Linked DNA regions of Homo sapiens. The protein of the gene in region 2 purifies or fractionates together with the protein of the main gene of each other region. This does not show direct contact. Each region holds a gene or a part of one and is shown on either strand. Other genes may lie near its edges. The genes, in order: SIRT4, NT5DC2 and TRMT61B.

Region 1 (3,648 bases), on a different chromosome or scaffold from region 2:
TTAGCCATACTTTCTATTTTATTTTTTTTATTTTTGGAGACAGGGTCTGGCTGTTGCCCAGGCTGGAATGCAGTGGCACGATCTCAGCTCACTGCAGCCTCAACCTCCTGGGCTCAGGTTATCCTCCCACCTCATCCTCCTGAGTGGCAGGGACTGCACTACAAACACGCGCCATCTCGCCCAGCTAATTTTTGTAGTTTTGGTAGAGACGGTGTTTCACTGTGTCGCCCAGGCTGGTCTCAAACTCCTGGCCTCAAGTGATCCTCCCTCCTTGGCCTCCCAAAGTGCTGGGATTACAGGTGTGAGCCACTGCGCCCAGCCCATCAATTTCCTTCCTATACACTCCTTCCTAACCTTCTGCTATAGCTCACTTTTATCCTTAACATGACTGCAAATGCCTTGCCTGCTGATTTCCTTAATGCCCAAACCTGCGTTTTTCCCTCTATACTTTCCCTTGCTCATCTGCTGAATTTGCCACTGTCTATTACCATTCCTTCTAAAATGCTTCTCCTTCTTGGTTTCCAGGACACAGTGTCTCCTGGTTCTCTTCTCACCTCTTTTTTTTTTTTTTTTTTTTTTTTTTTTTGAGAGCAAGTTTCACTCTCATTGCCCAGGTTGGAGTGCAATGGCATGATCTTGGCTCACCGCAACCTCCACCTCCTGGTCTCAAGCGATTCTCCTGCCTCAGCCTCCTGAGTAGCCGGGATTACAGGCAGGCTCTACCACACCCGACTAATTTTTTTTGTATTTTTAGTAGAGACGGGGTTTCTCCATGTTGGTAAGGCTGGTCTCAAACTCCCGACCTCAGGTGATCCGCCTGCCTTGGCCTCCCAAAGTGCTGGGATTACAGGTGTGAGCCACTGCACCTGGCCCCCCTTCTCACCTCTCCAATCACCAGAGCTTGAGCCAGTGAGGGAGAGCACTTTGTGTCTGTTTTTATTTTTTTATTTTATTTTTTATTTTTTTGAGACGGAGTTTCACTCTTGTTGCCCAGGCTGGAGTGCAATGGCGCGATCTTGGCTCACCGCAACCTCTGCCTCCCAGGTTCAAGCAATTCTCCTGCCTCAGCCTCCCGAGTAGCTGGGATTACAGGCATGCACCACCACGCCCGGCTAATTTTGTATTTTTAGTAGAGACGGGGTTTCTCCATGTTGAGGCTGGTCTCGAACTCTTGACCTCAGGTGGTCTGCCCGCCTTGGCCTCCCAAAATGCTGGGATTACAGGCATGAGCCACTGCGCCCGGCCTATTTTTTTTTTTTTTTTTTTTTTTTTTAAGAGACAGGGTCAGGCTGGGCGTGGTGGCTCACGCCTGTAATCCCAACACTTTGGGAGGCCGAGGCGGGCGGATCACGAGGTCAGGAGATCGAGACCATCCTGGCTAACACGGTGAAACCCCATCTCTACTAAAAATACAAAAAATTAGCCGGCCGTGGTGGCGGGCGCCTGTAGTCCCAGCTACTCGGGAGGCTGAGGCAGGAGAATGGCGTGAACCCGGGAGGCGGAGCTTGCAGTGAGCCGAGATAGCACCACTGCACTCCAGCCTGGGCAACGAGCGAGACTCCGTCTCAAAAAAAAAAAAGAGACAGGGTCTTGGCCAGGCGTGGTGGCTCTTACCTGGAGTGCAGTGGCATGATCATAGCTCACTGCAGCCTCGAACTCCTAGGCTCAAGCAATCCTCCTGCCTTAGTCTTCCAAAGTGCTGGGACTACAGGTGTGAGCCACCACAACCAGCCTCATTTTTCTCCTTTTAGTTCTAGTCAGCCATCAGATTATGTTGATTTTCTTCTCTTAAAAGAACCCCTGTGGCCAGGCATGGTGGCTCACACCTTGTAATCCCAGCACTTTGGGAGCGTAAAGCAAGAGAATCGCTTGAGCTCAGGAGTTCCAGACCAGTCTGGGTAGACAGCAAGACGCTCTCTCTACAAAAAAAATTTTTTTGGCTTGTCTTTGTTTTTTGAGACGGGGTCTTGCTCTGTCGCCCAGGCTGGAGTGCAATGGCGCGATCTCGGCTCACTGCAACCTCCGCCTCCTGGGCTTAAGCGATTCTCCTGCCTCAGCCTCCCGAGCAGCTGGGATTACAGGCGCCTGCCACCACGCCCAGCTAATTTTTGTGATCTGCCCACCTCGGCCTCCCAAAGTGCTGAGACTACAGACGTGAGCCACCACGCCTAGCCAAAAAAAATTTTTTAATTAGCTGGAGTTCTAATTACCCAGGAGTTCTAGGTTACAGGGAGTTATGATGGCACCATTGCACTCTAGCCTGGGTGTCAGAACCAGACCCTGTCTAAAAAAGAAAAAAAGGCCAGGCCGGGCACGGTGACTCACACCTGTAATCCCAGCAATTTGGGAGGCCAAGATGGGTGGATCAGTTGAGGTCAGGAGTTTGAGACCCGCCTGGCCAACATGGTGATACCCTGTCTCTACAAAAATACAAAAAAATTAGCCGGGTGTGGTGGTGCACACCTGTAATTCCAGCTACTCAGGAGGTTGAGACAGGAGAATTGCTTGAACCCAGGATGTAGAGGTTACAGTGAGCCAAGATCATGCCATTGTACTCCAGCCTAGGTGACAGAGCAAGACTTCATCTCAAAAAAAAAAAAAAAAAAAGAAAGCGGGCACAGTGGCTCATGCCTGTAATCCCAGCACTTTGGGAGGCCAAGGCAGGCAGATCACCTGAGGTCAGGAGTTTGAGACCAGCCTGGCCCAACACGGTGAAACCCAGTCTCTACCAAAAATACAAAAATTAGCCGGGCATGGTGGTGCATGCCTGTAATCCCAGCTACTCAGGAGGCTGAGGCAGGAGAATCGGTTGAACCCGGGAGGTGGAGGTTGCAGTGAGCCAAGATCTCACCACTGCTCTCCAGCCTAGGCGACAGAGTGAGACTCTGTCTCAAAAAAAAAAAAAAAAGAAAAGAAAAAAAGGCCCCTGTGAAATGTCAAGAAGTCCTGGATTGTTTTAAAATGCTTAAGAAGAGACAGAATGGATAAAGTAGACATGACAAAATCTTGATAAAACCTTGGAATCTGGGTGATGGTATATGAGAATTCATTATACAATTCTCTTTACTTTTGTGAAGTTTGAAATTTTCATTATTAAAAGAACAGATTTTCTTCATGAAAAAAATTGTGAGTTTTTTTTGAGACAGAGTTTCACTCTTGTCGCCCAGGCTGGAGGGCAATGGCACAACAGTCTTGGCTCACCGCAACCTCCGCCTCCCAGGTTCAAGCGATTCTCCTGCCTCAGCCTCCCGAGTAGCTGGGATTACAGGCATGTGCCACCATGCCCGGCTAATTTTTTGTTGTTCTTGTACTTTTAGTAGTGACAGGGTTTCTCCATGTTGGTCAGGCTGGTCTTGACTCCCGACCTCAGGTTATCCACCCGCTTCGGCATCCCAAAGTGCTGAGATGACAGGCATGAGCCACCACGCCCGGCGGAAAAAATTGTTTTAATGAATCCATAAGCATCATTAACTCAAATTCCCTGGATACCACCTTAGTCTAGGTCTTTCAGGCTGACCTCCCTGACCTGCTCTTTTTAATCCTGTTTAGCCTTCCTCAAATGCTATTTTTATCATGTTGCTTGCTTGCTCAGAAACCACTAATAAACCCCTTTGGTGTCTCACAGCAGACCCAACTGCACTGCCTGAT
Region 2 (3,634 bases):
CCCCCACAACCTGTGAGCCCGGGGAAGGTGGTGGGACAGCTCCCGCCAGGTCAACACTCTCCCTGTTTGTTTGTAGCAGGCAGTGCTGGCGCCTGAAGCCCCACCTGTGGCGGCAGGCGTGGGGGCTGTGCTTGCCGCTGGAGCACTGCTTGGCTTGGTGGCCGGAGCTCTCTACCTCCGTGCCCGAGGCAAGCCCATGGGCTTTGGCTTCTCTGCCTTCCAGGTAGGGCTGGGTTGGGGCTGCCATGGCGGGTCCTTGGATCTCGCTTGAGGCGCCTCGCCACTCACCCCTCTGCTGCTCCCAGGCGGAAGATGATGCTGATGACGACTTCTCACCGTGGCAAGAAGGGACCAACCCCACCCTGGTCTCTGTCCCCAACCCTGTCTTTGGCAGCGACACCTTTTGTGAACCCTTCGATGTAAGCATGGAAGTGAAGAAGTGTGGCAGATGTGGGATGGGCCCAGGCCCTGGTCACACCCTCCACCACCAACCCTGCTCTTCTAGGACTCACTGCTGGAGGAGGACTTCCCTGACACCCAGAGGATCCTCACAGTCAAGTGACGAGGCTGGGGCTGAAAGCAGAAGCATGCACAGGGAGGAGACCACTTTTATTGCTTGTCTGGGTGGATGGGGCAGGAGGGGCTGAGGGCCTGTCCCAGACAATAAAGGTGCCCTCAGCGGATGTGGGCCATGTCACCAAGGAAGGGGGTCTTCATGCAGCCGGTGCAGAGCTGGTCCATCCAGAGGGGTGCCTCGTGCTGCAGCGGCGTACGGCGTGGGTAGAAGGTGAAGTCCACGCGGTAGTTGAGCAGGCAGCTGAGGGAGGCCATGTAGAGGTCAGAGAAGCGCACGAGGCGCCTTGAGAAGTAGGTGGGGTTGTGGAAGGTGCGGAAGATGCTGCCGAACTGCGCATTGAACAGGGCCTTGGTGATGCACCTGGCGAGGGAGACACGATGCGCTCAAGGGGTGGGCCTGGGGTGGTGGCTTGGCTGGGACTCCTGCCCTGGCCCCACCTGCTCACCTCAGCTCCTGCCGCTCTTTCATCCAGGCAGCCAGCACCTGCCTCGACTCCGCGTCCTGATAGGTCTGGGGACACAAAGTGTGCATTGGGTGTGTGCACCCAGGAGGCTACCGCCCTGGCCCTCCCACAGCCACCCCGGCCCACACCTGCATGCGCTCCAGCAGCCCCGTGAGCGCCTGCTGCCACGTCAGCGAGTGCATGTACTGCTCCGTGTTGATGATGCGGATCTCACGCTCCAGCTCGGGGATGATGGCGCCTGTGCGCCAGCCGTGCCGCAGCATGAGATCCTGGTGGGTGGGGCGGCAGAACTGGGCTCAGCGCCAGTTGCTGGGGGCGGGGGGGGGGGGGTTTCCTGGCCCTCCCCCACTGCAGCCCAGCCCTGCCTCCCTCACCGCCAGATCACTATAGAGGTGGTCCCCGAAGTAGAGCACGCGGGGGCCACGCCATTCCGTCAAGCGTAAGAAGTCAAACAGGTTTCCCTAGGGAGAGGAGGGGAATGCTGCTGAGCCAAGTGTGCCTTGTCCTCCACCAGTCCTCCCTCCCGAATCCCCAGAGGCAGCCCAAATCCAGCCGGATGCTGGCTGCCCTTTCCCATGGCCTTGCTGCTCCCTCCCTGGGCCCTGGTTCTTGTCACTTTCCCCTCCTACTTGGGAAGGGGATTCTGCCTGCTGCAGGAAGGTGCCCTACAGGCCTGGCATGGTGCCCATGCCTCGAGGGCCTTCTCCCTGTGGTCTCACACGTACCCCAGGTTAGGGATTAGATCCCTGTTTGTAAGGTAGAAACTGCAGGGAAGGCTCTGCAGCCCTGAAGTCCTTGCTGGCCTCCCCTGCCTCAGTGCAGAGGGACCTGGCAGACCAATGGCAGACCTCACCGGGGCCACCAGCATCTTGGAGCCAGAGAAAGATGGAGACACTCAGCCAGGCCCACATGTAACTGGGGAAGCTCACAGGGTGGCAGAAACTGAGCGGCCCAGAGCAGGAATCACCAGACTAGTGCTCAGGCAGCAGCCACCAGGGTAGGAGTCCACACCCCAAAAGCGAGAATAATTGACACCCAGCAAGCACAGTTCTTGAAGCAGTCTGTGCATTCCAAGCCTCAGAAGTGGAAGCGCTGGGGGAAACAGGTGGTGTGGGAGAAGCCAATTGCTGAACTAAGTTCAAGTGGAGGGGCAGAGGCCCAGGCAGGCCCCAGACCAAGAGAAAGAGTCTCAAAGGGCAGGAGACTGACAGACTCCTAGTGACTGACAGGCAGGATCCAACACACAGTGGAAAGCAGCTTCAGAATACTGGGCATAAAGAACTGCCTGAAAGCTGCCAGGGAAGAAAGTCATGTGTTTCTCACAAAGGTGTATGACCCTCTTTAGCTGAGGCTGGATGCCAAGGCAGGGGAGAGCAGCGCCCTCAGAGCTGAAGGGACGCACCTGGGCCCGAGGGCTGTGGAGAGTTTGGGTGCGGAAGGGTGGGAGGCAGAGAAGTGGGCAGGGCTGAGAGGGTGGGGGTGTTTCCTGCAGGCCAGGCTGGGCATTGGCCACCTCCACATTGCTCCCCTGGCCAGCTGCTGGCTTCCCCCTCCTCCAGCCCCAAGGCCTTTAGAACCCCTAGCCTGAAGAAGCCCAGCTCAGCCAGGATTTCCGCATTCCAGCCAGGGCTAAACCTTAATCACTGCCTGCTCATAGACACCTAATCCCACCTCAACACCAGTCCCTCTCATTTTCCTAGCCAGGTAGGAAGGAGGAGTTTCTCTAGATCACCCAGTGAGCTGCCCCCAACCAGACTTGTTCTGGCTGCAGCAGAGTGCTCAACCCCAAGAAATGACACCATTCATCAGGCATTTCACGATCTCTGACCATTCTTGTTTTTTGAAGACAGGGTCTTGCATTGTTGCCCAGGCTAAAGTGCAGTGGTGTGATCACAGCTCACCACAGCCTCGAACTCCTGGGCTCAAGTGATCCTCCCACCTCAGCCTCTGGAGTAGCTGGGACCACAGGTGCATGCTACCATGCCCCGCTAATTTTTTCTATTTTTAGTAGAGATGGGGTTTCGCCATGTTGGCCAGGCTGGTCTCAAACTCCTGAGCTCAACAAACTATCCTGCAGCCTCAGCCTCCCAAACTGCTGGGATTATAGGCATGAGCCACGGTGCCTGGCGCACTGGCCATTCTGAGAGCTTTATACCACAGCTTCAGTAGAGAGTATTACACCTCTTTTGCAGACAAGGGAAGCAAGGCACAGAGGTCAGGCAACCAGGCCAGGCTCCCTCTGCTGAGTAGTGGAGTTAGGAATTCAAAGCCAGGCTGCTTGACCCAGAGGTCAAGCTCTCGAGGCCACCCAGACCTGCTCCCTGCCAGCCATTGCCTGTGTGAGGCTGCTCAGGGCCAAGGAGCTGTGCTGCTTCTTCAGAGGCTGCCTCTGCACAGCCTGGGGCCCTAGCTAGGCCCCATGCCCCCACCACATGCTGCTCTCCCCAGATGGCCCTTACCTGCCGATAGATCTTGCCCTTTTCCAAGCGGGTGATCCGGTCCCACTGAAGTGAGCCCTTCTCATCGAGTTTTCTGAAAGGCCTGGGGTGCAGGTAAAGGGCATGACTTCCAGTCTGTGGCTGGGCCACGGGCCG
Region 3 (3,648 bases), on a different chromosome or scaffold from region 2:
GATGAGAAAATGACTGCCTTTAACTATGTACAGAAAAGTCAAACAAAAGATTGATTGAGGAGCCCAGAATGAATTTACCGGCTTAGTATAATCTAGATAATATTCATATGTGAAGACATTAGGTCAAAGAACAAAAGGTGTGAGTTTAATTTCAGCATATTTCTATCTGTAATCTTTATAAAATCTACTCAAAGAAAGTACTGTGACTATTCAGCAGTCTAGTATTATGTAGGGAAGAGAACACTGCACAGACAGACCACCCAAAGCAACCCTGACACTCAGAGAAATTAGGTAGGCAAAGAGGTACTAATCAACTAGCATAAAAGTAACTAGAAATTAAGTGGTAGGAACATGAAAAAATATATATGTTTAATATACACCTCTTGATTTTTGATCAGACACCCACCTTCAAGCAGTACTTTTACCAACTGACAATTTTTAGAGACTTTCTGGAAAAAAAAAAGATAATTCTTCATGATCTAGCTTTTTACTTAATAGCTCTGTACTATGATTAATTTCTTTATGAACACCTACTATAATTCTTTGGCCCTAACGATATATAACTCTCCCCCCAACAGCTGACAACGTCCTTCCATATTCCCTCAGGCTAAGTATTCACCTGGCACTAGTATTCAACAATAACATGACAAGTACACAAGGAGGTTCCAAGCAGCACTATTTGTAATATCCAACTCAAATGTCTATCAACAGTAAAATAGGTAAATTGTGATTTAAATAGAGAGTATTATACAGCAACTAAAATGAAAGAACTACTGCTGCATGCAATGAGTGAATCTCACAAACATAATAATGAATGAGAGTAGCCAGATACAAAGGAGCACATACTGTATGATTCCATTTTATATAAGTTCGAAGGAGGCAAAACTAATCAGTGATGATAAAAGTCACAATAGTGGTTTCCTTTGGTGATGATAAGGACTGGGAGGGGACATGAGGAGGCATCTGTGGGGCAGGGACACTCCCTACCTTGATCTCGGTAATAAGTACATGAGTGGTCACTATACAAAGATTCATTGAGATATACACTTATGATCTGCACACTTTTCTGTAGCCATATTATATTCCAATAAAAAGTATACTTAAGAAAAAAGAAGCAGCATTAGAGAGCATGGAGAAAGTAAAACAAAGCAAAGAAAATTGAGGGAGGATTAGAAAGAGACTGACTGGAATAAATGTACAGAATGGAAAGAAAAATAGTTGCTTACTTTCAGATTCTAGGAGAATGCTACCTCAATGTTAGGTATTTTCCCAAATATCTTTATACCTTTCTGTTATTATGAACAAATTGAATGTTTTCTTTGTTACTGAGATCCAGCTCAGTCCAATCTCTTACCTGCTTTGGATAAAAATAAGCTCATTCCACCAGAGCCTGAGCCAGCTTCCAAAACAGTATCACCTGGGTTGATATCCATCATTGAGAGAATCATATTAATATCCTATGATTGAAAACAGTATGGGTGACTCAGCGACCAATAAATATGTACTAAGCACCTAGTCTTATCTTACATTGTTGGGTGTGCAGAAGAAGGGAGTGAAAAAACGAATCAGACTCTGGACCTGCCTTCAGTTTATATTTCACTTGATGAAATAAAAGAGATCCAAGAATCAATTAACAAATAAGGCAACACTTCAGAATAATACCAAAATTACAGACAATAAGTTCATAGAGTAGCAGGATGGCCTAGTTTAAAGACAAAGAGTAGACAATTTATGGGAACAATCACAAGGTAAAAACAGCTTTAAACAAAGCAGAGGTAGAATAAATCCAGTTTGTTATCTCAGGAGAGATAGGCAGAGAATTAAATGCCAGTATGAGGCATTAGAACTCAGCCTGATAAGCAACTAGGGTGTGTCACTGAGGTGATATAAATGGCATTTTATGAGGATTAATCTGGCAGAAGAATACAGGATCTACTGGAGAAAAATCAAGAGGCAGGAAGACCAGTTAGGAATTTACTATATAATCTCTGCATAAAATGATGAATTTCCTTTTTTTTTTTTTTTTTTTTTTTGGGAGACGAAGTCTCACTCTTGTCCCCCAGGCTGGAGTGTGATGGCACGATCTTGGCTCACTGCAACCTCCGCCTCCCGGGTTCAAGCGATTCTCCTGCCTCAGCCTCCCGAATAGCTGGGATTACAGGTGCCTGCCACCATGCCCGGCTAATTTTTGTATTTTTAGTGGAGATGGGGTTTCACCACGTTGGCCAGGCTGGTCTTGAACTCCTGACCTCAGGTGATCCGCTCGCCTCAGCCTCCCACAGTGCTGGGATTACAGGTGTGAGCCAGTGTGCCCAGCTCAAAATGATGAACTTCTTATTTTTGGGGGGACAGAGTCTCGCTCTGTCACCCAGGCTGGAGTGCAGTGGTACAATCTTGGCTCACTGCAAGCTCCGCCTCCTGGGTTCAAGCGATTCTCCTGCTTCAGCCTCCCAAGTAGCTGGGATTACAGGCACCCACCACCACACCCAGCTAATTTTTTGTATTTTTAGTAGAGATGGGGTTTCACCATGTTGGCCAGGCTGGTCTCAAACTCCTGATTTCAGGTGATCTGCCCGCCTCGGCCTCCTAAAGTGCTGGGATTACAGGTGTGAGCCAACGTGCCTGGCCAAATGATGAACTTCTAATTTAGAATTAAGATACTATATAACAGCGGTCCCCAACCTTTTGGGCACTAGGGACCCGTTTCGTGGAAGACAGTTTTTCCACAGACTGGGGAGAGGGGGATGGTTTTGGGATGAAATTGTTCCACCTCAGATCATCAGGCATTAGTTAGTTTCTTATAAGGAGCATGCAACCTAGATCTGGTGCATGCACAGTTCACAAGAGTTTGCACTCCTATGAGAATCTAATGCCATGGCTGATCTGACAAGAGATGGAGCTCAGGCAGTAATGCTCACTACCCACCGCTAACCTGCTGTGTGGCCCGGTTCCCTGTTACAGGCCACACACTGGTACCAGTCCTCAGCCTGGGGGTAGGGGAGCCCTGCTATATAAGAAAAAAAAGAGACTATGCTATTACTAGATTGGAGGACCCACTTGCCAAACATATAATTGGAATTGTTTTTGTTAACACAAATATTACGGATGATATTAATAAAAACTGTTTTTTTAAATTTAGTAAACAAATTTTCTTGGTGACAGGGTCTCTGTCACTCAGACTGGAGTGTAGTAGTGCAATAGTAGCTCACGGCAGCCTCGAACTTCTGGGCTCAAGCAATCCTCCTACCTCAGCCTCCAAAGTAGCTGGGACCACAGGCATGTACCACCATGCCCAACTAATTTTTTTTTTATTTTTTATAAAGATGGGGTCCTGCTATGTTGGCCAGGTTAGTCTTGAACTCCTAGCCTCCAGCAATCCTCCTGCCTTGGCCTCACAAAGCACTGAGATTACAGGTGTGAGTGACGGCACCTGCCCCCTCACTTTTTTTTTGAGATAGGATCTTACACTGTTGCCCAGGCTGGAGTGCAGTGGCAAGATCATGGCTCGCTGCAGCCTCAAACTCCTGGGCTCAAACAATCCTCCCATCTCAGCCTCCTGCGTAGCTGGGACCACAAGTGTGTGCCAGCATACCTGGCTAATTTTTTATTTTTTGTAGAGACAAGGTCTCCCTATGTTGCCCCGGCTGG

Evidence for each region.
Region 1: the proteins of NT5DC2 (region 2) and SIRT4 purify together in Homo sapiens (co-immunoprecipitation; one large-scale study listed by IntAct). This does not show direct contact.
Region 3: the proteins of NT5DC2 (region 2) and TRMT61B purify together in Homo sapiens (co-immunoprecipitation; one large-scale study listed by IntAct). This does not show direct contact.

The regions. Positions count from the first base shown.
Region 1 is NC_000012.12:120,308,674-120,312,321, reverse strand, and holds part of SIRT4 (NAD-dependent protein lipoamidase sirtuin-4, mitochondrial), read right to left. Parts: intron 1-3,648. UniProt on the Homo sapiens protein: Acts as a NAD-dependent protein lipoamidase, biotinylase, deacetylase and ADP-ribosyl transferase. Catalyzes more efficiently removal of lipoyl- and biotinyl- than acetyl-lysine modifications.
Region 2 is NC_000003.12:52,523,795-52,527,428, forward strand, and holds the end of NT5DC2 (5'-nucleotidase domain-containing protein 2), read right to left. Parts: intron 3,582-3,634; coding exon 3,500-3,581; intron 1,502-3,499; coding exon 1,415-1,501; intron 1,310-1,414; coding exon 1,169-1,309; intron 1,088-1,168; coding exon 1,023-1,087; intron 938-1,022; coding exon 676-937; 3' UTR 593-675; downstream 1-592. Other genes in the region: STAB1 (stabilin-1), read left to right, coding at 77-223, 306-419, 506-562. UniProt on the Homo sapiens protein: Promotes dephosphorylation of tyrosine 3-monooxygenase TH which decreases TH catalytic activity and leads to reduced synthesis of catecholamines including dopamine, noradrenaline and adrenaline.
Region 3 is NC_000002.12:28,863,663-28,867,310, forward strand, and holds part of TRMT61B (tRNA (adenine(58)-N(1))-methyltransferase, mitochondrial precursor), read right to left. Parts: intron 1,458-3,648; coding exon 1,355-1,457; intron 1-1,354.